Homo sapiens: one gene and its partners. The protein of the gene in region 3 purifies or fractionates together with the protein of the main gene of each other region. This does not show direct contact. Each region holds a gene or a part of one and is shown on either strand. Other genes may lie near its edges.

Region 1 (3,500 bases), on a different chromosome or scaffold from region 3:
AGAGCCTTGCCTCCTCTAGAAAGGAGACAAGCACCAAATCAACCTCATTGGTCCTGAGCTGGAACACTGGGACTGCAGCCTCCTCTCTCCACCCTGAAGAATGACTGTGAGCTGATCCAACCATCCACACGGGAAGCCCCTCCCTGCAGTTTAGCGATCCAGGAAGATGCTACCAGTCCCCAAAGCGGGCAGATTGGATGGTCCTGAGGCCCACCCTAGTCAAGTGGCAGGTCCTGTTCTCTTTGTCCGTATAGACGCACAACACAGCTCTACAGACTCCAATCCTAACGAAAATGATCCACCTACATAGTTATCCCGCGCGGACCAGCCGGGGTACAGTTGCATATGAAGCTGTCGCTCCTTCCGGGCCAGCTCGTAGTATTTCGCTTGCTCTTCTCTGGACAGTGCATGCCACTGGAGGGGACGTGGGGTACAGATGAGAAAGACATGAACAAAGAGAAAAGCATGAAAGAACATCACACATTACGCCAAGGTCAGGGGATAAATAATGCTGCCTTTTTGGGTGAGTCCGTCCAGAAATGGTATAATCTGTACATACTGACCGTCGGCTGGGTCCTGGCACTAACAGGAATGTTTAGACAAAACTTGATTTGTTATCTATGTCATTCTGTCATTTGCTCACTCGCTCGGGTAGGGGAAGAGCATGGCTGTGGCTGTTCTGAACGCTGAGTGCAGAATAACTAGTCCTGACTCAGTGAAGGCCATTCAAGGATTCAGAATGTGGCTGAAGGGCAAGAATTCTCCAAAGAAATGGGGACAGAGACATTCTGCCACCTGACCTGCTGCACTCTGGTCCCTCACCACCCGCCCCCCGCTTCTCCCTGAGAAGGGCGTCACCTACCCTCCGCCCAAGGATCTGGTTGATGGCCGCGCTTTCTTTCAACGTGCACTCAGCTACGACCTTTGCTCTCATTTCCTTCATATACAACATGAATGCATTAAGAGGTTTCTTTATGTGGGGCTTCTTCTTTTCTTCTTCCTTTTTGGAGTCCTGATGCTTTCTGGAGATAGACAAAACAGACGCAACCCAATAAACAAGGTCGTGGTCCAACTTCCTCCATGGCAGGGAACGTATCTCCTTGTCTCATAACCCCCAAGCCTAGCAGTTTTGGATTAAAAAGCATGCTTTTAGTTCTTCTGCACCCCGGAAAATGGAACAAAAATAGCTTGGGGAGGGGTTGGGGGAAGAGAGGGATTTTGCAATCACTTCCTCAAGTTTCACAAATATACAATTTTCCCAAGCCAGAGGGGAAAGCACATGGTTGCTGTCTTCACCTCGGCAGGGTTTTCTCCTGCTTGCAGAACAAAGCTCTAAATGTTCAATGATGCGGTTAGGGGGCAGGGAAGTGGTTGCAAATCCCAGTGTATCCAAGTACACACACAAAAAACAGTTCTGTTCTAACCCACGGTGGTACAGTGAGATTCTGCCACTGTGCACTCTCTCTCTCTTTGTAAGGGAGTGAAGAGCCCACACAGGCTGGGTATTGGCTGCAGTCAAACCAAACGAGGCCAACCTTAGGCAGAAAGCCACCACCCAGCAGCTGCAACAGGCTTGCAGAACACTGCGGCTACGAAGAAGGTGAGAAAAACAGCAACACTTACGAACTATGGAGTGAGCCGACATCACTCTGGGACGATTCCTGTTTGACTGTTGGTGTGACTATGGCCGGATGCGGAATGCCCGTCGTGTGTAGCGTATGATGTGGTGGGACCATATGGGGAGGGAACCTAGAAGACAGAAAGCTGTGTAAATCGTCAGAATCAAAATGAATGAATGAGGAGGGATGTGTACACACAATTAAAAAGAAAAAAAAAAACAGCACGTAACACTCACATGAAAGCAACCCAAGGCATATGAAACCTGTCAGCATTAATTAGCGATAAATTAAACATAATGATTCTCATAATGTCATTAAAGCCAATTCATTATTGCTACTGACATAAGACATTATGATTTTTAACATCTTTAGCAAAAGACAAATTCAACTGACGTACTTGGGCGGAAAAGTGGGCTTGGACTACCTGCCAGAAATCGCACGTCCACTTGTTTTTTGAGGCATTATTAGTGGCATCTAAGAAGACAATTTCCTAAGTCCTAATCAGCTCTAAAATGAAAGGTGAAATCTTTTGTTGTATATTGACAGCTAAATAAAATATTAACGTGGTTGAAATATACATACATTTTTGACAATGCTGTGCAAGCCTCATTAGGCCTCATCCTGTTGATGAAGTGCAATACAATTTTTATTTTTCTTTTGTGCTGTGTCCCATCATTTGACAGGAATGGGAGAGAGTGAGGCAGGAAGACAGGGAAAATTCAAATAGTTCCTATTTGGTTCATATCATAAGTCATGGACATTTTAAATAAGTTTCTATCCCTTTATGGAAAGATGCAAAAAAAAAAAGGAAAGGAAAGGTGCACACACACACAATAAACCTTTGATTCTGATTTGTATGCCCTTTCTCCTCTAAAATTTAGGATTCCTATATCACTTTTACTTCATATGTTGTCTAGGCATCATTAAGAAGTCTTCTAAATGATTATCAAAATTATAAATGAAAGATACAGTTTGTGTTTTCTCCTCTCATGCTGCTCATTTTTTGGACAGTTCTCTAAGGCACATTTTAGGACCTGAATTGGCATTTCCCAACCAAGTACATTAGCCAGGACAGAAAGAGCTAATCTCAACCTACTCTTGGCCCATCTGCAGACTGACAACTGGATCAAACACCTTTCTCATTTTCAATTTTGCGTGGTGTCACCATGATTTGTACTGGGTTGGAAGACTCACCCCTCTTCAAGCAACATATCCTACTATAGAAAAAATAGTGAGGGACAGAAAGGGCAGAATCCCAAAAGTAAACAATATGGCAGCCTCCTGCTCCAACCTGGCAAGGTGATTCAAGTGAGCAGATGGGAAGCTGTTCAGATGAAGATCATGGCAACTGTTGCTTTCTTAATAAGTCCAAACCAAAGCAGTCCAATGTACCATCCAAGGAATAACAATCTGCTCTTTACAAAGCCAATTCTGGTGGGAACTAGAGGGCCTAATGAGGATCGATCACGACAATTCTTCCAAAATGATTCTGTATGTATTTACAAAGTTTTTTCCAGAAGCGGGCTAGAGATAGTTTCCATTCAGCCAAAATAAGGTAACAAACATTAATTTGAAAAATAATAAAATGATTAAAGTACTAACTGAATCTACACAGATCAACAGAGGAAGGAAAGTTAATGCTGATTCTTGAAGAAGGCCCAAGCCACAGTAGACATTTCACTCAAAAATCCCACGCTGACGTGGCCTTTCCTGCCACTGCCTTTACAAATTTAAGCCAGTAGTGAAGACTGCATGACATGATTTTAAAAATAACAACAATACAAGTCCTTCGAATGTATCAAAAAAAGAGAGAGAGAAGGAAAATGTAAGGAAACAAACATGCTAACAACCTTCATCTTCATCCCCTTCCTCTCAAAATAA
Region 2 (3,500 bases), about 34 Mb from region 3:
TGTGCGCGACCATACCCAGCTAATTTTTCTATTTTCAGTAGAGACAGGGTTTCACCACGTTGGCCAGGATGGTCTCGATCTCTTGACCTCGTGATCCGCCCACCTCGGCCTCCCAGAGTGCTGGGATTACAGGCGTGAGCCACCGTGCCCAGTCTCTTTTTCTTCATAAACAGGATCTCGCTCTATCATGCAGGCTAGAGTGCCGTGGCATGATCGTAGCTCACTGCAGCCTCAAACTCAAGCGATCCTTCCACCTCAGCCTGCTGAGTAGCTGGGACTACACCCAGCTAATTTTTTTGACTTTTAATAGAAATAGGGTCTCACTATGTTGCCCAGGCTGGTCTTGAACTCCCGGCCTCAAGCAATCCTCCCACTTTGGCTTCCCAAAGTGCCGGGATCACAGGCAATAGCCACCGTGTCTGCCATGGTATGCAGATTCTTAGGGACATACATGTCCTCAAAAAAGTGTAGGCTGGGTGCGGTGGCTCACACCTGTAATCCCAGCACTTTGGGAGGCCGAGGTGAGTGCATTGTTTGAGCTCAGGAGTTCGAAACCCACCTGGGCAACATGGCGAAACCTCATCTCTACTAAATAAAAAAAATAGCAGGGCATGGTGGTGCACACCTGTGGTCCTAGCTACTTGGGAGGCTGAGGTGGAAGGATTGCTTGAGCCTGGGGGAGGGGTGGAAGTTGCGGTGAGCTGAGATTGCACCGCTGCACTTCAGCCTGGGTGACAGAGCAAGAAGACCCTGTTTCAAATAAAAAGGGGTGTGATGTGATTGCACCCTAGATGACCCATGGGCAAGCAGTTACACAGGTCCAAATCTGAGCACGAGTCGGATTTATGAGTGATCACCCAAACAGGGCCGTGCAGATGCATGCAATCCCCTGGATGGATACCCCGGGCGCTCAGTGTGCCTCCTGTATACACTCCTGGCCCCACAATCCTGTGTGTACACATGTGCATGCACACACACGTGCACACACACAGAGCCTGGGTGCCCGCAGGCCCGCATGCACACACAAGCCGTCTTGGTACCTTGGTGCTGGGGCCCTGGGGCCCTGGAGAGGCCGGGGGACTGCCAGCAGGAGCATCTCTGCTTCTAGGACTTGAGGGGGGTGACCCTGGGGACACACTGGGGGAGATGCAGAGGCTGAGGTGGGGTGGCTGTGCTGACTCCTGATCCCATGATCCCCAGTCCCATCACCAAGCAGAATGCTCACCTGGAGGTGGGGGATGAGGGGTCCCCGGGACTCCCACTAGGTGATGAGCTTTTCTCTCGGGCAAGCTTCCTAAGGATGGGGACAGGGGATGAGGCTAAGGCAGGAGCAGCCCTTGCTGATATCTGCCCACATCACCGCCCCTACACACACCCCGAGACTCACGCACTGAGACGCTTGGTGAGGCTGATCCGCCGTCGGATGCGTGGGGAGCTGGGGCAGGAGGCAGCTGGTGGCTCAATGACCCGGGAGAGCCGGTAGCTGAGGGGTCAATATGTGGATGAGGTGGTGGGGGCAGGAAATACAGGGGATGGAGAGATAAGAGTTGGAATCAGTTGGGAGGTGGGTTTGGGGTGTAAGGGGGAGCAGCCAGAGGTGGCACCCCACATGCCAGGGTCAGGGTGGTAAATGAGGGTCATTGAGCATCAAGGTCTTATCAGAGATGGGACAGGATGGCTGGTCAGGAGGTCACAAAGAGATTCACAGGGTGGCACTAAGGAATCAAATTGGGTCAGGATTAAAGTCAGGGTCAGGACTGGGTGCAGTGGCTCACGCCTGTAATCCTAGCACTTTGGGAGGCTGAGGCGAGAGGATTGCTTCGGGTCAAGAGTTCGAAACCAGCCTGGCCAATATAGTGAAACCCCGTCTCTACTAAAAATACAAAAAAAATTAGCCAGGTGTGGTAGCTCGCGCCTGTAATTGCGGCTACCGGGGAGGCTGAGGCAGTAGAATTGCTTGAACCTGGGAGGCGGGGGCTACAGTGAGCCGAGATCACTCCACTGCACTCCAGCCTGGGAAACAGAGCCAGACTCTGTCTCAAAAATAAATAAATAAATAAATAAATAAATAAATAAATAAATAAATAAAATAAAGTCAGGGTCAGACTGGGGTCAGGTCACCATTGGGGTCAATGGTTAGGGTCACAGTTATATAGAAAGAAAGGACACAGTTGTCATAGTCAAGCTGGACAGTCAAACATAAAAGTTGGAGTCAGTTACTCAGAACTGAGGGTCAAGGGTTGGGGTCAGAGAGTCAGATGAGGGGTCATGAATAAGGTCATGGGTCAGATAGGACCAAAGATGGGGAAGTCAACAGATGGGACAGTTGAGTTGAATGGCCAGCTGAATGCTAAAGTTGAGGTCAGAAAATCAGATGGGGTTGAAATTGAGGTCAGAGGTCAATTGTGACTATTTTTTTTTTTTTTTTTTTGAGACAGGGTCTCACTCTGTCACCTAGACTGGAACTGCAGTGGCGTGATTTTGGCTCACTCCAACCTCTGCCTCCCAGGCTCCAGCAATCCTCCCACCTCAGCCTCCCAAGTAGTTGGGACCAACGGCACTCAACACCACATTCAGCTAATTTTTTTTTTTTTTTTTTGAGACGGAGTCTCGCTCTGTTGCCCAGGCTGGAGTGCAGTGGCACCATCTCGGCTCCCTGCAAGCTCTGCCTCCCGGGTTCACGCCATTCTCCTGCCTCAGCCTCCCAAGTAGCTGGGACTACAGGCGCCTGCCACTACACCTGGCTAATTTTTTTTTTGTATTTTTAGTAGAGACGGGGTTTCACTCTGTTAGCCAGGCTGGTCTCAAACTCCTTACCTCATGTGATTCACCCGCCTCGGCCTCCCAAAGTGCTGGGATTACAGGTGTGAGCCACCGTGCCCAGCCACGTTCAGCTAATTTTTGTATTTTTTTGTAGATATGGGGTTTCGCCATGTTGCCCAGGCTGGTCTCGAAATCCTGGGCTCAAGTGATCCACCCACCTTGGCCTCCCAAGTGCTGGGATTACACGAGTAAACCACCAGGCCCAGTCTATTTGATTCGACTGGAGATACTGCAAGGTCACAGGTTGTAGTGGGGGATCAGGGCTCAAGAGGGGGTCTTGGGAGGAGCTGGAGGTGTGTATGGAGTGGGTGGAATCCAGTTGGTGACCCAGGCTCAGCTGGGGTGGGGCTGGGACAGGCTACAGGGTGGTCACCTCTGCTCCTCGGTGAGCTGGTTCTGGGCATGCAGGGCAGCCAGGATGGGCGGGTGGGGGCTCAGGGTGTAGCTCTGACAGCGCCTCTGCAGCTGCTGGATGCGGGCCAGGATCTCCCACTCCTGGAGGACGAGCCTCTAAGACCCTACCCCTGCCCCACCCCCACCCTCAGGCACCACCACACCCACTGTAGCCTCCACTCACCTTCCTCCTCTTCTCAAAGTTAATGAGATCCCCCTGGGGGCAAAGTGTGTCTGAATTGCAGCACCCAGGGTCAAGGGTCAAGGGTCAAGGTCAGGGGCTG
Region 3 (3,500 bases):
CCTTCTCTCGGCGTTCCCGCTCCCTGCGAAGGCATGGCATGAGCATCTGGCCGGGAACACTGGACACACTGAACTCAGGGAGGGCAGGTGCTTCCAACACCCTACTCCGAGGAAGACAGTAAACCAAGGGGGCCGGTACTGCCACCAATCCCCGCTTGGAAAGGGAGCCCCAGGTTCAGAGGGACCCCAGCTGGCGGGGCTGACTGGAATCCCAGCCCCTTCCTAGGAAAGCCTGGGGAACAGAGGGAGGCAGGATAGTCCCATCATTTCCTGCCGCACTGGGGCACCTGCACACAGTGAGTGTTGAAATGGTCTCCGTCACAGTGGCCAGGCTTGGCAACCCAATGGCTACGTCTACTGGGTGCCTCCTCCGTGCCTGGCCTTGATCTTGTCAAATCCTCCCAACAGCCTGTGAGGTGGGACAGTGACTGTATCTCCATTTAGGAGATAAGCAAACTGAGGCTGGGACAGGAGAAAGACCCATGGCGGTGGGTGAGTGGGGAAGGGGTATCAGGAACAGCTTGCCAGGCCAAAAAAACAGCAAAGGTGACTGGCACTTGGAGGCTGGAAGAGCTGGGAGGAGGTCGCGGTGGCGGGAGGCAGGTCGAAATGGTGGGAGGAAATTCAGGGAGAGGAGCAAGAGAGGCAGCTGGGCACAGCCCCGAGGGCCAGGCAGGGATCTCTGCCTTTCATCCACCCACAGGGAGCTGGGCAGGGCTTGAGCCAGCAGCCCATGGTGGGAAGGCCAGGCAGGCCAGGAGGTGTGGCCATGGGACAGGGAGGGGCAAGGTCTTACTTCATGCGGATCTTGCGGGCCATGGCTCGAAGCTCGTCTTCCCGCTCCTGCAGCAGACAGGGCTATGAGGACGTGGCCAGGCCAGCACCCACCCGTCACCCCAGCCCTCCCTTTCCCACTTCACCTGCCGCTCATGCTCCTGCTGGATCATCTTTTCTTGTGCCGCCTTCTTATCCGCCTTGACTGTAGAGAGAAAGAACAGGGTGGCTGAGGGGTTCCCTTAAGAGCCCCACTCTCTTTTTTCTTTTTTTTTTTTTTTGAGACAGAGTCTCGCTCTGTCGCCCAGGCTGGAGTGCAGTGGCGTGATCTTGGCTCACTGCAGGCTCCGCCCCCCGGGTTCGCGCCATCTCCTGCCTCAGCCTCCTGAGTAGCTGGGACTACAGGCGCCCACCAACATGCCTGGCTAATTTTTTGTAGTTTTAGAGAGACGGGGTTTCACCGTGTTAATGGTCTCGATCTCCTGACCTCGTGATCCGCCCACCTCGGCCTCCCAAAGTGCTGGGATTACAGGTGTGAGCCACCGTGCCCGCTAAGAGCCCCACTCTCTAAAATGAGGAAGCTGAGCTCAGACAGGTCAACCTGACTGCAGAGGCCCCAGCATAGCGGCAGCGGAGCTGATGCAAACCCATTCCTCCCCAGAGCACCTCCGTGCCTGCGTGGCCTCTCTAGGGAAGGGCCAGGCCTCCCAAAGTGGTGCTGAGTCTCCTTGCTCCCACTGCCAAGGGAAAGAAGAGCTGTGAAACCCTGGAGGGACAGGGCAGAACATACACTGCCTGTTCAGCGCCTTCTGCATCCTCAGTTTCAGCTTCTCCTGAGGCGTCAGCTTGGGCTGGGGAGGGGGGAGAAGAGGCGGGAGAGGGGGTGGGTGTCCCAGAGCTCCCACAACCCACCTCAGCCAAAAGCCTGGGGCTTTGTGCGGGGGGGGGGTGGGGGGGGGAGAACGACGTGGGGAGGAGGGGCAGGCTGTGGACAGCCCTGAGGCTCCCAGAGGTTCAGTGACAGGTGGAGCCCCAGTGTACAGTGAGGAGGGGAGAGGGACATGGTTCTCACAGGGGCAGACCCTTCCCCTCCCCTCCCTGTCCCTGGGGCTGGATCTCCCAGCCCACCCGGGCCCCCCTGCAGGCCCACCGGGCCCAGCTCTTGGGCACTGCTGCTGACGGGAATTAGACGGGCGAGTTCCAAATTCTTACTGACTTTGGCAGCTCCTGTCTCTTTACCAGCGGCAGGTTCGGTCCTGGGTGGGGGCAGGGCCAGAGGACATGGTTGGGAGGGGGAAAGGGCAGCTGCCACCTCTGACCCCAGCCTCAGCACTGCCCTCAGACCAGGTAGCCAAGGCATGGGCCTCAGATGCCCCAGGGTGCAACCATGTCCCTCTCAGACCCCACAGAACCTGTAAGACAGGGACCTGTCCCCCTCTGACCCTCACCCAGGACAAGGTTCTAATTGTGCAGATCCTCCAGGATTTGGTGTGTCCTCCTCAGACCCCCCAGGCCAGGGCTGTGTCCCCCTGAAATCCACCCTCCCAGGCCAGGGCCATACACCACCCCCCAGACCTCCCAGGGTAGGGCTAAGTTCCCCTCAAAAAGAAAACAGTGATGTTCACCCTCCCCACCCGAGATTGGCAGCCCTCTTCCTCCAGACCCGCCCCGCTCACTTTTTCAGCTTCTCGCCCACAGCAGGGGACGCGGCCGGCCTGGTCAGCTTCTCTCTTGCGGGTGATGGCGAGGGGCTCTGGCTGCGGCTGCGGCTGCGGCTGCGGCTCTGGCTGGGGCTGGGGCTATGGCTGCGGCTGCGAGTCAGGCTGCGACTGCGGGACGGGCTGAGGGACCAGCTGCTGCGGCTGCGGCTACTGCTGTGGTGCCTGAGGCCCCGGCCGCCCCGCCTGTAGCGGTCCCCTGAGTGGGAGCGGCTCCTGGGGATGCAGCAGGGCGGGAGGAGGACTGTGAGGCTCCAGGGACCCCAACCGCACCCCACCCTGGGTCCGGATCCACAGTCCTCCTTCCTGCAAGGCCCAGGGTGACAGGCTCGACTCTCCTCTCCTGCTACTCTCCCTCCAAAATGTCCCAGAGCGGCATTCCGGCCTCCCTCCGGCTACAGAGATGGCGCTCTAGATACACTCAGCCTAAGGGCAGTCCTGCCATCATGAGCCCTGCCTGGCCCACGTCACCTCTCCCTCACTAGACACCCGCTTGCTAACTTCCCGGGAGGTGAGCTCTGGGAGGGATGGCTGGCTCCCCCTTTATGAGCCGTGTCCAGCTCAGGCACAACAGTGTTCCACGGTGACCTCATCTACACCCTCACCCACCACCTCATCCTGCTTGTGTCCAGGGTCTCGACAATAGTGGGGACCACCCCTTGTCCTCCACCAGTCTCAGCACAGACCCACAAGTTCCAGTCTGGGGATGCGGAACCCCATCCTCTCCCTGCTCAGGACACTGGTGGGACTCTCCACCCACTGCCCACTCTCAGGCTGGCATGCAAGATGTGCCCAGGTCCCACCTGTCCCCCAAGCCTTTCTCCTGTCATTGCTCTGGGTAAGCTACAAGGAATATATGACCTGGAAGCCAATTCTGGGCCACACGCTGACTCTGCTTGGGCTCTTTTTTTTTTTTTTTTTTTTTTTTTTGAGACAGTCTCTCTCTGTCGCCCAGGCTGGAGTGCAGTGGTGCAATAGCTGGGCTCACTGCAACCTCTGCCTCCTGGG
Region 4 (3,500 bases), on a different chromosome or scaffold from region 3:
CCCTTCTCCCGACGTGTGCCTTCACATAAGAGGGGATGTTCTGCCTCGCTCACTGTTGTCTTCATGCCTGCGAGAAAGAGGACCTTATGGGGATTGAGAGTAGTCATAATTCCCAAGACAGCAAAGGTAAGAGGCCAGGGTTCCCAAGCCATCAGCATATGAAGTAAGGGGTTCCCTTGGTCCAACCCACATCACCTATAGAAGTCTTCGTTGACTATTATATCCAGCCTAAGCTCTGGTGTGCTTTTCAAAACCTTCATAACCAGGTCCAATCTGCTTACCCAGCATGTACTTATCATTTTAGGGAAGCTGGCCTCCTCATTCTCATGAAAACTTGATTGCGTTGTGTATTTACTCATGGTGTTCGCTGGTTTAGGACCTACTGATCTTTTAACCCACATTCCATATTCTACCACTTCCCTTAGGCCTTTCTCTAGATTTTTGTTTTGCTGCCCTTACAATACCCAATACCCATAGCACACAATTTTTTTTTTCTTTGTTTGAGACAAGGTTTCACTCTGTTGCCCAGGCTAGAGGGCAGTGGTGCAATCACAGTTCACTGCAGCCTCAATCTCCAGGCTAAAGCAATTCTCCCACTTCAGCCTCTGGAGTAGCTGGCAGCACAAGGCATGTGCCACCACACCTGGCTAATTTTTTTTTTTTTTTTTTTTTTTTTTTTAAGTAGAGATGAGGTCTTGCTAGGTTGCCCAGGCTGGTCATGAACTCCTGAGCTCAAACAATCCTCCTGCTTCAGCCTCCCAAAGCGCTGCGATTACAAGCATGGGCCACCACGCCCAGCCATATAGCACACATTTTTGCCCTGAATTCCTGTCTTACAGGCACTAGTTGGCTCACACATGTCATCCTGACCTTCCCATTACCATACAGCCCTTCACAACAAGGCACAGGTCTCATGTCCTTCAAGACCTGAACCAGGCTTAGCTCGTTGATATGCTCAAGACTCACCCAAGGCAGCAACTGCTGCTTCAAATCCAAGCTCCTCATCCCCAGGTGTCTCGCTGTTCCAGTTGCGACTTGGGGGCCGGGAACCTGTGGGAGAAACCACTGTATAAAAGTTGGGGTAAGTCAGGCAGACAGAAGTATCATGCATGGGAAAAAATACAGGGGAACCCAAAATCCTCATCATCACAGACCTACCCATGAAGCTGCCTGATGGGTCCTAAAGGTGATTCAGAAACTTGGGGCTCTTGGTCTTTCTTAGAGAAAGCTACCCCTACCCCAGTTCCCCACTTACTGTAGGGTCAGGCATCATACCTGGAGCACAGAGAACGTCAAAGATGAAACTGGCCAGCATGAGAGGCAACACAGGCCGATAGTCACAGAGTGTCCCCTCCCGAAGTTCCTCTGCCCGGCACCGCATGGTACTCATCTCACTTGGACCCAGAGGGATCTTCTTGAGCAGGGCAGCCACCTCAGACTCCTGGTATGCCAGCTTCACCTGAGGGCACAGGAAGGAGCTCAGACCTCTGGTGTGTCAATAGAGATCAAGGTGCAAGGCTCTAAAGAGACTGAAATACAAGGCTGAGATGGAGCCTCTGACCTCCAAGGCCTTGGTAGAAGCTGGAGGCCTCTGTAGCTCCAAGGCAAACATGCCAACTCGGAAGGCCAGGTTGTGGTGCTCTGGACGCTCACTTAGCACTGTCAACAGGAAGGCCGCCTTGCTCAGGGTGTTGGTAGCCACCCAGGTCTGACGGCTCGTGGATACCTTGTTCTTCTTGCCCTAGAAAGGGAAGAAACACAGGAGACAGGCAGATGATTCTGACTTACCTTGGTGGAGGTAGAAGGATGCTCTCACTTGGGGTGGGGCATGGGAGCAGGTTGGGGGTAAGTGGGGGAGGGGAAGGTAGAGGAAGGGGGTCTCTCACCTTGGCAGGGGGCGGCTCTACCTTGAGGTCGGGTGGGTTGGCTAGCAGATCCTGGGCAAGCTCCACAGTGAGACGGGAGGCCTCACTGCTATAGCCATGCGCATGCAGGGCCTCAGCACAGGCAAACAGTACCTGGAAGGAGGACATGGGACCAGACAGGTTAAAGTCCCAACTTCCAGGAGCAGGACATCATGCTCACTCATGCAGCCAACATTCCTTGAACACTTGCTACATGCCAGGCCCTGTGCCGCTCCATAGGAGCTCTGGTTAGAAAGACAGACACATAAACACACATGCCACCGTGATGCCAGCTATTACAGGGAAAGGTCAAGGGGAAGCAGGTGGGATATCTTGGGGCACAGGGACAGTATCAGAGAGACTCCCTAGAGGAAGTGATCTTTAAGATCCCTGAGACCTGAAGGAGAAACACGGGCTAATGGGGAAGAGCATTCCAGGCAGAAAGGTCAATCTGTCCAAAATCCTGGAGGCAAGAGAGAGAGCATGGCAGATACATGAGTGATTCAGCTGACTGGAGTGCAAAGGACAGAGCAGCCAAGTGAGGCTGGCAAAGCAGGCAAAGACCAGATCAAGTGGACCCTCACAGGTCATGCCAACCACTTTCATTTTATCATAAGGGCAACAGGAACCCATTGAAGGGTTTTAAGCAGCAGAGTGACACCATCACATTTCAGGAAAATCTCGTGGAAGCAGAAAAGTGAGTAGACTGAAAGCAGGGAGACCAGTTCGGCGCCTGCAACAGGGTTCTCACAATCCTGCTGATGGTCCTGACACTCCCAACTAGAGCTAGATAGCCCCTCCCAGTTGTGGCTAAGGAGCACCCAGCCCTCCCTCCTTCCATCCCCTCACCTCCATGCGACTCTCCTGTTCCAGTGGCTTCAGCCCAGCAAACAGGTCGTGCTCCTCCCCAGCCCCGCCCTCGGCCTTCTCTTCCTCGCCCCCAGCCCCATCCTGGGCATTCAGATAGTACGCCTGGTAGTCATCATCCTCCTCTCCAACTGCAGGGGCTGCCTCTTTGGTTTTGGGAAGCCCATTGCCACTCTCATCTGTAGAAGGGAGGTCGTCCTGGGTACAGACATCCCCAGGCAGTAGGCCAGGGGGGCCAACAGAGGCTGTGGGAGGCTCAGGCCCTTCCGAGAAGTACACACCACCATCTTCTTCATAAGTATCTGGGGGCTCAGGAAGGAAAGTGGAAGGGCCTCGGGAGCCACCGTGGAGAGGACAGGGTGGAGGGCTCTCAGGGAATCCCCCGAAGGTGCTGGCCTCTGCGCCCAGGGCCAGGCTGCTGTCATCCAGGCTCATCTCGGCCAGGTCTGGCTCCAGGGAGCTGTCTTCGCTGCTCAGCCGTCGCTTGCTTCCGCCACCTGCTGAGCCCTTGCTCCCACTGCCAGCCCCACCCAGTGCCTTGGCTTTGCCCCCACCTGGACCCATCTTATGTAGAGCTTTATCTCCCCCTTCAGCTGAGAGGCGGCGGGGACCCCGCTGTGATGAGGGGACCCCCTCACCCAAGCCCTTTCGCTTGGTCCCAGGCTCCTTGGGCCGCACAGCTGGCTCAGTAGGAAGGGGTCGGGGCCGGTCCCGGGATTCCTCCAGGCC
Region 5 (3,500 bases), on a different chromosome or scaffold from region 3:
TGCATAGAACTAAAAAGTGTTTTACAATTGGAAGAAAAAAGTTAAGTGCCACCTGAAGGAAAGACTGGCTTCCTACTGTGTATACAGGGACATCATCTTGTAATATTCACTCCTAAGAAAGTTCTACTTATTTGTTAAGCTTAATGCTACTGGTAAGTAGCTGTCACTCAGCACAAGAAAAGCTTTTAATTCAGGCCCTTAAATCCATTTTGTAGTGGTCTCAATTTTTTCCTAAGTGTATTAACTTCTCTATGTTGTATACCTTACAGCTCAGAATTTTCAACAGATGCTATTGGGCATAACAGTGTATAGGTTTCAAGCATGAAACCAAATCTCACAAGAGATTTAAAAGCACTTGAATTTTCTTTCCCAGGTAACCACAACATTTGTTCATTGTATAAATGACTAAGGAAAAAATTGCACCTAACAAGACTCTTATTATACTAAAAGTCAAGCTTATATTTAAAGATGCTGGCTTGTTGTACAGAGGGTATTCTCATTCCCCACAGGGAATAAAATTAGGTCCCCTGGAGAGTAGAATAATTCCCAGAAAGAAAGCACTGGATTATTTCTCTCTAATTTCACCTATTGGCTTTTTAACCAAGTTCACCCTTCCGCATTAAAATATTAAGTCTTTGTAAATGCCTTAAAGATAAAAAGGCCTTTACAGAGTTGAGTGTTTTCTGCAGGTGAGATTTTACATTCTGAATTCCCTCCTCTCAAATTACTTTACAAAGGGGATTAACTGCTCTCTTTATTCAAATACGTTAAGATCAAGCTTGCGAAAAGAGTCCCCTAAGAATTTTCATACTTCTGGGTACGGAAGTCTATAAAGTTAATCTCTGAAACAACATATCAAGCTTACAGGTACAATGTTGAGAGAAGAGTGCCAATTCAGCTCATTTTACCTTCCATTTTCCCTTTTGAACTTTTGACACAATCATGATTATATCTGATTCACTCTAACAGAAAGGGGAGGGGTGAGGGGGAAAAGTACTTTCCCTTCTATGATTAGCTAATAGTTTGATAGTTTATATACTTAAATTTAGAGGACCATGATTAGCTTAAGAAAGTTCCTTTAGTTTTCTTAACTGGTTATGATTTCTCTTTTTGCATGAGGACTGCTTTAGAGTTTAAAGTCACATCAAGAAATTCAAACATCACTTGCCCATTACATATGCAGTGGTTAACTTAGCCTGTTAAACGTCTTCCTCATCATTACAAGGATTTGTAATTCAATGTAACTGATTAAAATAACTAAGTGCAAAATGTGGGTTTTTTTTTTTTGTTGTTGTTGTTGTTTAAGGTACTGAACTATCACTGCTGAAACTCCTGTGATTGGTCACTTTCAATTTATTTAACTTTCATAAAATGATTGAAGGGCGGAGAGGTTTTTTACCTACAGCTTCAGGAGGACTAAACTATTATTTACTGATCATCTATAAAAGGGCACCATGCTAGATAAGGGAGAATCATTATTTATAATGATGAATAAGATGCAGACCTGGCCCTTATGAAACATACACCAATCAAGGTTAGAAAATAAGCATATAAAAAGTTGAATTTCCATGGTTAAAAATACTACAAACTGGCTGGGCATGATGGCTCAAGCCTGTAATCCCTGTACTTTGGAAGGCTGAGGTGGGAGGATCACAGGAGTTTGAGACCAGGCTGGGCAACATGGTGAGACCCCCATCTCTACAAAAAATAAAAAATTAGCTGGGCAGGCTGGGCGTGGTGGCTCATGCCTGTAATCCCAGCACTTTGGGAGGCCAAGGCGGGTGGATCATCTGAGGTCAGGAGTTCGCGACCAGCCTGGACAACATGGTGAAACCCTGTCTCTACTAAAAACACAAAAATTAGCCAGGCATGGTGGCGGGTACCTGTAATCCCAGCTACTCGGGATGCTGAGGCAGAACTGCTTGAACCCGGGAAGCGGAGACTGCAGTGAACCAAGATTGCGCCACTGCACTCCAGCCTGGGCAACAAGAGCGAAACTCTGTTTAAAAAAAAAAAAATTAGCTGGGTATGGTGGCACATGCCTGTAGTGGGAAGATAAGGTGTCAGGATGGCTTCAGCCTTCGAGGCTGAGGCTGCATGAGCTGTGATCACATCACTCACTGTATTTCAGCCTGGGTGACAGAGGGAGACGGTCTCAAAAAAAAGGGGGGCATTTTGGTGAATACATTATCCATTACTCTATTAAATACACATAACTTTTGAATGAACAATTTCAATGGGAATTAATCCTACAAATATTTCCACACATACAAAAATATTTTAGCATTGTAATAGACACAAAAAAAAACCCCAAAAAAGACCAGAAACAATAAATCTTACATTACAAGCTTATATTACACAGCTTTTTACAAAATATAACTCAGCCATAGGTTAATCAGAAAAGCTGTCTAGAATGTATGACATGTAAAAAGTTTCAGGCTGGGTGCGGTGGCTTATGCCTATAATCCCAGCACTTTGGGAGGCTGAGGCGGGTGGATCACTTGAGGTCAGGAGTTCAAGACCAGCCTGGCCAATACAGTGAAACCCCATCTCTACTAAAAATACAAACATTAGCCGGGTGAGGTGGCACGAGCCTGTAATTCCTGCTACTCCGGAGGCTATGGCAGGATAATCGCTTGAACCCGGGAGGCGGAGGTTGCAGTGAGGTGAGATCATGCCACTGCACTCCAGCCTGGGCGACAGAGCGAGACTCCACCTCAAAAAAAAAAAAAAAAAAAAAGTTTCAGAACAGTATATTATATAGCATAATACCATTTGTATAATATGAAAAGCACGGAAGAATTGACAATTGATTTGGCCCGGATTCATTCATTCTTTCCCCTCCTTTTCTTTCCTTTCCTCAGTCTCTCTGCTTCCCCTCCCTCTCCCCCTCCCTCCCTCCCCTTCCTTCCTTTAGAGACAGGGTCTCCCTAAGTTGCTCAGGCTGGTCTTGAACTCCTGGGCTCAAGGGATCCTTCCACCTCAGCCTCCCAAAGTGCTGGAATATGAGGTGTGAGCCACTGCGTACGGCCAGTCAGGACTCTTTTTCGTTTTGTTTGTTTTTGAGACAGAGTTTCGCTCTTGTCGCCCATGCTAGGGTAAAATGGCGCGAGTGCAATGGCCTCAGCCAGGACTCTTTTAACACAGAGCTAGCCATACTATAAGACAGCTGAAAATGGTGAAAATAGTGTGAGCTAAATGCAGAGAAGAAACAAGTACAGTGTATATTTAGTATATAATTCTTGAATATTCTAAAGCATAGGGAATGATGGGAAATAAAACTGAAAAGTTTAAATTGCACTCTAAATATGGGGCTAAGGTGACTACCTGTGAGCATCAGGAGTTAATAAATATGTTTGAATAGAAAAATGATAGCTATGAACAGAAAAAATAGAACAGAGAAGTTACTACAGAAGTAGAAGCCACAGATGAGCTGCATGTAGCATTAAGGTGTAGAATTAAGAACAGATGGCTCTAGTTGATTCCTAGGTTTATCTGCT
Region 6 (3,500 bases), on a different chromosome or scaffold from region 3:
TTTAAGTTTTTAGTACCTTGTATACAAAGGGTATATGAGTATGTATGTATACATGACAGAAGTACTTGGTTGGAGGTCATTTAAATTATCTGCAATAAAAATTCACTTTAAAGGTTACTATAATTCCTTTTAATTCATGCATGCTGACTATACTAAATATAATCCAAAGTCATGTACACTGACTTTACCTGAACTGATTTGAGACTACTACTCTGATAGAAATGCATTTACACTATCAGATAAAATTAAATCTTTCTTTCAGTATAGTGACAAATCAAGGAAAAGTTAAAGTACATAATAAAAGTCTAGACTGTATTCCACTCAAAGCATAGTAGAGGCTGTTTTAAAATTCCATGAATATGGGAAGGAGGAGACAAAAGCTAAATTCCATAATAAATAAAACAAAATTAAGGTATATAATATTTTACCCCTCATATCCATCACATCCTCAAGAAAGTTAACAGATGTTTTCCTGTTTTTGAAAATTGGACAGCAAACAACAATGTAGATTATAAATGTTCCTAGAACAGTGATTTCCAAATTGGGTGGCACACAGTAGGCATTCAATAAATGGCTTACCACACAGATTGTGCTACATTGCATATCTTTGTCATGCACTTAAACTTACTGCCTAACTCTAGGTTAGGACTGATGATCATGTTTTTGTGCCAAAAGCATAGCAGTCTTTGTTTTCGAAACTCTCAGTGACCCATATTTAAGCCAGCTATTGGTTTCTGAAACAAATGTTAAGGGCACAAAGAACAAACAAACACAAAAGCCTTCCAAAGTCATAGGATTTGCTACCCTTTGAATATACTGTTTCTAGTCTCCCTCACCCCTATTTCTGCATGATACCTGGTTCTTGGTTATTCAGTCGGGTTTGATTTAGTTTTCCTTTTTGACCTCTACCTTCCCAGAACTTTCAGTAATACTTCCTTTGTCCTGCTCCTACCCATGATTTCCAAGGCCTGCTTTAACATGGTACCCAGCTCCACTGTTGCAAATAGAACTAAATCAGGCAGCAGTTAGAGTCTATTCATTGTACAACCTTTAGACAAATTCTCTATCATCATTTTTAATTCTAGACTGAAGAGTTATATTTTAAAAAGATTCTATCACAGCAACCATTGTTCCTACTTACAACTCTTTCACCTTGTACCCTTCTCTAGAACCTTCTCCAAATCTATGCCTTTCTGAAATAAAATTGCCATTATTAATCTGGGCAAGCACTGAGTTAAAATCGTCCCAGAATAGTGGTCTGATGGGGTGGTGATTAAGAGCTTAGGTTCTCCAGAGCTGTACTTGAGTTTAATTTCCCATGTGTTTTATACTTAGCTGTGTGACTTTGAACAAGATACTTACCCTTTCTGAGCCTTCGCATATCTTTAAAATTGGGATAATAAAGGTACCTGTCTCACGGGATTGTGGAATTAACTGAAAAAATGCAGATATAACCAATGACTGCAACAAAGTAAGATCTCAGTAAATGTTGGCTACTATTGGTGTTGGTGGTGTGATTAGTATTCCTGTTTAATACAAGGATAGAATGCATTTACTTTTCACTGTGCTTCCCACTAATAATTTTGCTAGTCTTTTTGGTACTCATGGCTTTAGAAGAGTTACAGTGATTCTTCAATATGTATACTGGGTTTCAGTTAACACTAAAACCAGCTTCCCTTAAGCACATTTAGAATATCTTTTCCATTATTTGCATGCATTGAAGCATTCATACCACCTTTTGGGTCCAACAATTGATCTAAAATTATTCTTACAATTTCTCCTGATTAGCTAGATGTTTGGTAAGCTAAAATAGCTTACCATCATCTAACAGACAGTATATTTTGGCTACGAGGTGATTTATAAAATATTATATGATCAGTACCAGGAACATCTGGAGCTGTGGGTGGATGTGAGGAAATGAGAGGATTCAGGATAGTATAGCTTCCTGCAGATTGCTGTTTCCATCTAAGGTAATGTTAGATAGCTTTAAGCCTTTCACTACCATTCATACTAGCAAAAAGGATGAGTCAATTAAACAGAAACTGAGAGTAAAATTTTAAATTAGAACTTTGAGGTTATCATTAAAGATATATCAAGTAGGTATATAGAAATTGTATATAGTTGTTTCTTTCAATATATAACAGGACAATATTTGCAAAGTCTTTTCTAACAGATTCTTTCCTAGTCAGATTTCTTTGCCTACCTTATCTTCCTTCCTATGTAAATCTATCTGTGCATGGATATAATATAAGATCAAAAACTAAATGCAGTAGTTAAAAATTACCAATTTTATAAGATCTGCATGGAGGTGGTTCCTGATTACTCAATGTATACCTATGTTTTGCTTAGAGAAGAGAATCACAAAACCAAATTTATCTTTTATCTTTGAATAAATGTATCTATCTATAGATTTTATAGAAATAGAAAAATGTGAGTTGATTCATTCTGTTGTTACCTGCATCCTCAATTTTAACAACTTTATGCTGCATGAAATGCAGAGTCAAGTTTACAAATTCTATTAGCAATACACCTTCCTGAGTTAAGATGAGTTGGCAAAGTATTTATGTAAACTAATAGATTTATTATACTTACCCACTATGAAAGATTATAAGTACTTAATATCATATATCTATACTTTACTAGTGTGCTATGTTAGAAAGCATGTATCATTAAAATTAAACTTTTATAAAAGACTAAAAGTGGAAAGCAAAGTCAAGTATTTTACATATACTGTTTCTAGGTGTCCTAAGCATCAGTTTCAGTAACACTACCAGAAGCTAAAATAACAATTCAATTGTTGAAGGAAACAAACTCAGATGATTAGAACTGAAAATGACCCTAAAAATGAAAAATCTAAGGTGCTAAGGTGGAGATCCGCATAGATTATGCAACATGCCATAGATCATGTAACTAATTAATGGCCGCAGTAGAACTAGAACAACCTCTACTAACTTCACATCTGAGATTTTTGACAATGTATAACAAAGAGTTGAATTTAATATATGAGAGATTGAAAAGGTAGATATTGTCCCCAAGTTAAAAATCTTTGGATGTAATTACTTCTACTTACTTAATTTTATATTCCTAAGACGACACATTTAAAATAGCATAAAACTGTAAAAACTCGTTAGAAGTAATGAAAACTACAAACAAAATTTATGCTTTATCTTAAATCAAAACCATGGAAAAGGCCATTTTCTTTTGTCTAAAGGAAGCCTGAGATTTACTGAAAATGTGTGTGAGTGCGAGAGAGTGTGTATGTGTGTGTGGTGGTGGTAGGGGTCTTTGTTTTGTTTTGTTTTGTAAATTGTTAGAGATTGTTCTATTAATAGTTTCCTTTTGTAATGGTAATCTGTGCTCCAAAATGAGGGCACACTAAAATGAATTTCTGATAATTTATAAAGCAGTGAAATACAAATACATTTCTAGAAACTTACTAATGACAGTAAGAAAATGGGTACCAAGAGTTTCAAAATTAAAAATCAAAATCTTTTTAATAT
Region 7 (3,500 bases), on a different chromosome or scaffold from region 3:
ATTTTTGTATTTTTTTTGTAGAGATGGGGTTTCACCATGTTGCTCAGGCTGGTTTTGAACTCCTGAGCTCAAGCAATCCTCCTGCCTTGGCCTCCCAAAATGCTGGGATTACAGATGTGAGCCACCACACCTGGCCATGGCCATTTGTTAATGTGAAATTTACTTAGGTTGTGGTGATTGAAGTTGACAATACTTTATGTAAAAAGTAGAGCATAAAATAGATAAAGAAATGTTAAATTGTTTTAACCTTTCTGAAAAATATTATCTTCATGTAATTCTTATGTAGAATTTATGAATAATTCATAATGAAGGGCTAACCTTTCAAAATTTAATAATTATTTATTAATGTGGAAGGAATGATTAAAGTTACAGTTAAAATGGTAAACTCTTCGGTTCTTTTTGTAAGAACTTGTAACTAGTGGGATTTTTAGATATAAATTCTCACCGCCTCTTTAGATTACTTTTGATAGCGAAGGAAATTTGCTACATGGTTTTGATTATTGAATAGTCAGGAAACTAATGTGTAAGTATTGAAAATCCTAGTGGTGTTATGTTGTAGAAGAGACAGAACACAATCCTATGAAAAGGAAATATGAGAAGATTTGAAGTACAGATAAGAATATAACACTTTCACTTTTTAGGGAAATAATTTAAAGCCAAGCAATAGAAAGACAAAGATTTGGCCCATTAAGACATATTGAAAAGAAACATAAAATGATTTTAAATGTGTCTTCAAAAGTGTAAGAGAATTTAATAAATAGTATAATTTTAAGTTCAAGTACTTTGTTGTACCATCAGGAAAAGTTTTAAATATACTCATTTTTTCAAATACGGTGAACCATTTGAAAATTCATATTGTGCTGTGGTTCATTTCTTATTTCTTACTATCCATATTTTTTCCAATTGAAAAATGGTCTGTAATATAACATCTCTCTTTTGCTATTTATAGTTTTATATTATATTTACATTTAATTATGTATTTTTTTTTATTTTTGAGACAGAGTTTTGCTCTTGTTGCCCAGGCTGGAGTGCAATGGCATGATCTCGGCTTACTGCAACCTCCGCCTCCCGGGTTCAAGCGATTCTCCTGCCTCAGCCTCCCAAGTAGCTGGGATTATAGGCATGTGCCACCACCCCGGCTAATTTTCTATTTTTAGTAGAGACAGGGTTTCTGCATGTTGGTCAGGCTGGTCTTGAACTCCCGACCTCAGGTGATGCGCCTGCCTTGGCCTCCCAAAGTGCTGGGATTACAGGCGTGAGCCACTGTGCCCGGCCATTTAATTATATTTCTAGTTTAATTTTCATTTTTTCTCAGAAGATCTTTTATCAATGTTTTTATTATTTTTATTTAAAAACTGGCTTTGCCTATAATTTTGCAGGGTATTTAAAACTTTTTTAAAAAGTTAATGCCATCTCAAAAAAAAAAAAAAAAAGTTAATGATCAGGGCCGGGCATGGTGACTCATGCCTGTAATCCCAGCTCTTTGGGAGGCCAAGGCAGGTGGATCACTTGAGGTCAGGAGTTCGAGACCAGCCTGGCCAACATGCAACCCCATCTCTACTAAAAATACAAAAACTAGCCGGGCATTGTGGTGGCAGGCACCTGTAATCCCAGCTACTCTGAAGGCTGAGGCAGGAGCATCCCTTGAACCCGGGAGGCAGAGGCTGCAGTGAGCCGAGATCGTGCCACTGCGCTCTAGCCTGGGCAACAGAGCGAGACTATCTCCAAAAAAAAAAATTATCAAAGTATTTTATTTTTATCTGTTTTTGGTCACTGAATTGTCAGTTGAATTTTCCGAGTTGTAAACGTCGAGAAATCATTGACTCTCTGTCCTTTAAAATGAACATTTATAATTTATTCCCTTGAATTTAACATGACTGTTGAATAAATTTGTGACTCTGTAATATAAAACTTTGATTCTAAATTTATTTAAAGCTTCAAGCAAGTTAATATATTTTCACTGAAATATAGGTAATAGTAATGTAGAAAAGAGTAAAATCACTATGTTTAAAGGTGAAAAGTAAAAGCCTTAAAATGGTAATTAGTCATATGTTAACTGTTTTTTCAGAATGAAATTCCCATATATAGAAAATTTTTTTAAGGTCCTTATCATTTTGGGAAGTAGGGTATACCTGTGTGTGAGCAGCAAATCCACTTGATGTCAGTATTGCTTAAAAAAATCCTACTCTGGCTGGGCGTGGTGGCTCACGCCTATAATCCCAGCACTTTGGGAGGCCGAGGCGGGTGGATCACCAAGTCAGGAGTTCAAGACCAGCCTGGCCAAGATGATGAAACCCCGTCTCTACTAAAAATACAAAAACTAGCCAGGCGTGGTGGCGGGCGCCTGTAATCCCAGCTACCCGGGAGGCTGAGGCAGAGAATTGCTTGAAACCAGGAGGCAGAGGTTGCAGTGAGTCGAGATTACGCCACTGCACTCCAGCCTGGGCAACGGAGTGAGACTCCGTCTCAAAAACAAAAAACAAAAAATCAAAAACAAAACCCAGTTACACTAAGAGGAATTGTCTAGTAAGAGTCCTTATATGACCAAGGAAGCTACTTTTCAGTGCCTCTTTTGGAGGGCCGACGTGAATACCTATGCCTTAGGATCCCCTAATTCCAGAGAAAGTCAGTGAATAATATGGGGAGCTGATGTTTTGGTTAACTGTTGTAAATGTTCTCTAAACCTCTTCTCCCTCCTTTGTACAAGACAGTACGATAAATATGGCCTTTCAGCACATGAAGTTTTGTTTTTATTGAAGAATCAGAGGGCAAATGCTGGGAGTTTATTTTTAAATGGTTCAACAAAGTATATGATAAAACAGTCTTTCCTATTCTACTTAGATTTTTAGAACAAGGAATCTGTAGGTATGGTGCCCAGTGTACTTCAGCACATTCCCAGGAAGAACTAGCAGAATGGCAGAAAAGATATGCTTCACGGCTGATAAAATTGAAACAGCAAAATGAGAATAAACAGCTCTCAGGCAGTTACATGGAAACCTTGATAGAAAAGTGGATGAATTCATTGTCTCCTGAGAAAGTGGTGAGGAAAATAAGCTACATTATTTTTTGTTTGTCTTAAACAATGAACTTGAGTCTTGACTTTATTGTGTGCTCTATTTTGGTTTATTTCCTTATCTTCTTTGCAAAGAACTTGATTCTGATAGAATGATGTTTTTAGTAGCTATAGTAGACCCATTTGTTAAAATGAAGAGCAGAACTAAACCACTTGTTTGGAGATTTGCCTGTACTGTATTAATTACCTTCATTCAGGCAGTTTTTGAGTGCCATTTTTGTGGTGGTGGTTAATTTTCTTTTCTCTCTTATTTTAGCTTTACTATATTTTGTTCTTGTCAAAATTACTGAAAATGAAGGTATAAAATACTTTGGTCTGTAAACAGTTCCATCATCATCTTAACTGTTGACATTTATTTTCCATGCTAAAAGATTTTGTTTGTGCCCTTAGCAATAAAAACATAACATAAATTGCTGTCTGTTTTCAG

What was found.
Region 1: the proteins of CLASRP (region 3) and TCF7L2 purify together in Homo sapiens (affinity purification with mass spectrometry; one large-scale study listed by BioGRID and IntAct). This does not show direct contact.
Region 2: the proteins of CLASRP (region 3) and RGL3 purify together in Homo sapiens (affinity purification with mass spectrometry; one large-scale study listed by BioGRID and IntAct). This does not show direct contact.
Region 4: the proteins of CLASRP (region 3) and ZSWIM8 purify together in Homo sapiens (affinity purification with mass spectrometry; one large-scale study listed by BioGRID and IntAct). This does not show direct contact.
Region 5: the proteins of CLASRP (region 3) and SNX3 purify together in Homo sapiens (affinity purification with mass spectrometry; one large-scale study listed by BioGRID and IntAct). This does not show direct contact.
Region 6: the proteins of CLASRP (region 3) and ZBTB20 purify together in Homo sapiens (affinity purification with mass spectrometry; one large-scale study listed by BioGRID and IntAct). This does not show direct contact.
Region 7: the proteins of CLASRP (region 3) and HELZ purify together in Homo sapiens (affinity purification with mass spectrometry; 2 studies listed by BioGRID and IntAct, with this or other methods). This does not show direct contact.

The regions. Positions count from the first base shown.
Region 1 is NC_000010.11:113,149,247-113,152,746, reverse strand, and holds part of TCF7L2 (transcription factor 7-like 2), read right to left. Parts: intron 1,765-3,500; coding exon of another isoform or gene 1,750-1,764; coding exon 1,624-1,749; intron 1,023-1,623; coding exon 863-1,022; intron 415-862; coding exon 307-414; intron 1-306. UniProt on the Homo sapiens protein: Participates in the Wnt signaling pathway and modulates MYC expression by binding to its promoter in a sequence-specific manner. Acts as a repressor in the absence of CTNNB1, and as activator in its presence.
Region 2 is NC_000019.10:11,398,815-11,402,314, forward strand, and holds part of RGL3 (ral guanine nucleotide dissociation stimulator-like 3), read right to left. Parts: intron 3,434-3,500; coding exon 3,401-3,433; intron 3,319-3,400; coding exon 3,197-3,318; intron 1,484-3,196; coding exon 1,388-1,483; intron 1,295-1,387; coding exon 1,226-1,294; intron 1,156-1,225; coding exon of another isoform or gene 1,138-1,155; coding exon 1,041-1,137; intron 1-1,040.
Region 3 is NC_000019.10:45,066,545-45,070,044, reverse strand, and holds part of CLASRP (CLK4-associating serine/arginine rich protein), read right to left. Parts: intron 2,709-3,500; coding exon 2,451-2,708; intron 2,031-2,450; coding exon 1,991-2,030; coding exon of another isoform or gene 1,987-1,990; intron 1,626-1,986; coding exon 1,565-1,625; intron 980-1,564; coding exon 921-979; intron 844-920; coding exon 797-843; exon of another isoform or gene 791-796; intron 102-790; coding exon of another isoform or gene 24-101; coding exon 1-23. UniProt on the Homo sapiens protein: Probably functions as an alternative splicing regulator. May regulate the mRNA splicing of genes such as CLK1. May act by regulating members of the CLK kinase family.
Region 4 is NC_000010.11:73,792,106-73,795,605, reverse strand, and holds part of ZSWIM8 (zinc finger SWIM domain-containing protein 8), read right to left. Parts: coding exon 2,754-3,500; intron 2,019-2,753; coding exon 1,887-2,018; intron 1,742-1,886; coding exon 1,562-1,741; intron 1,460-1,561; coding exon 1,276-1,459; intron 1,066-1,275; coding exon 967-1,065; intron 68-966; coding exon 1-67. UniProt on the Homo sapiens protein: Substrate recognition component of a SCF-like E3 ubiquitin-protein ligase complex that promotes target-directed microRNA degradation (TDMD), a process that mediates degradation of microRNAs (miRNAs).
Region 5 is NC_000006.12:108,226,541-108,230,040, forward strand, and holds part of SNX3 (sorting nexin-3), read right to left. Parts: intron 1-3,500. UniProt on the Homo sapiens protein: Phosphoinositide-binding protein required for multivesicular body formation. Specifically binds phosphatidylinositol 3-phosphate (PtdIns(P3)).
Region 6 is NC_000003.12:115,137,289-115,140,788, forward strand, and holds part of ZBTB20 (zinc finger and BTB domain-containing protein 20), read right to left. Parts: intron 1-3,500. UniProt on the Homo sapiens protein: May be a transcription factor that may be involved in hematopoiesis, oncogenesis, and immune responses. Plays a role in postnatal myogenesis, may be involved in the regulation of satellite cells self-renewal.
Region 7 is NC_000017.11:67,189,697-67,193,196, reverse strand, and holds part of HELZ (probable helicase with zinc finger domain), read left to right. Parts: intron 1-2,841; coding exon 2,842-3,040; intron 3,041-3,500. UniProt on the Homo sapiens protein: May act as a helicase that plays a role in RNA metabolism in multiple tissues and organs within the developing embryo.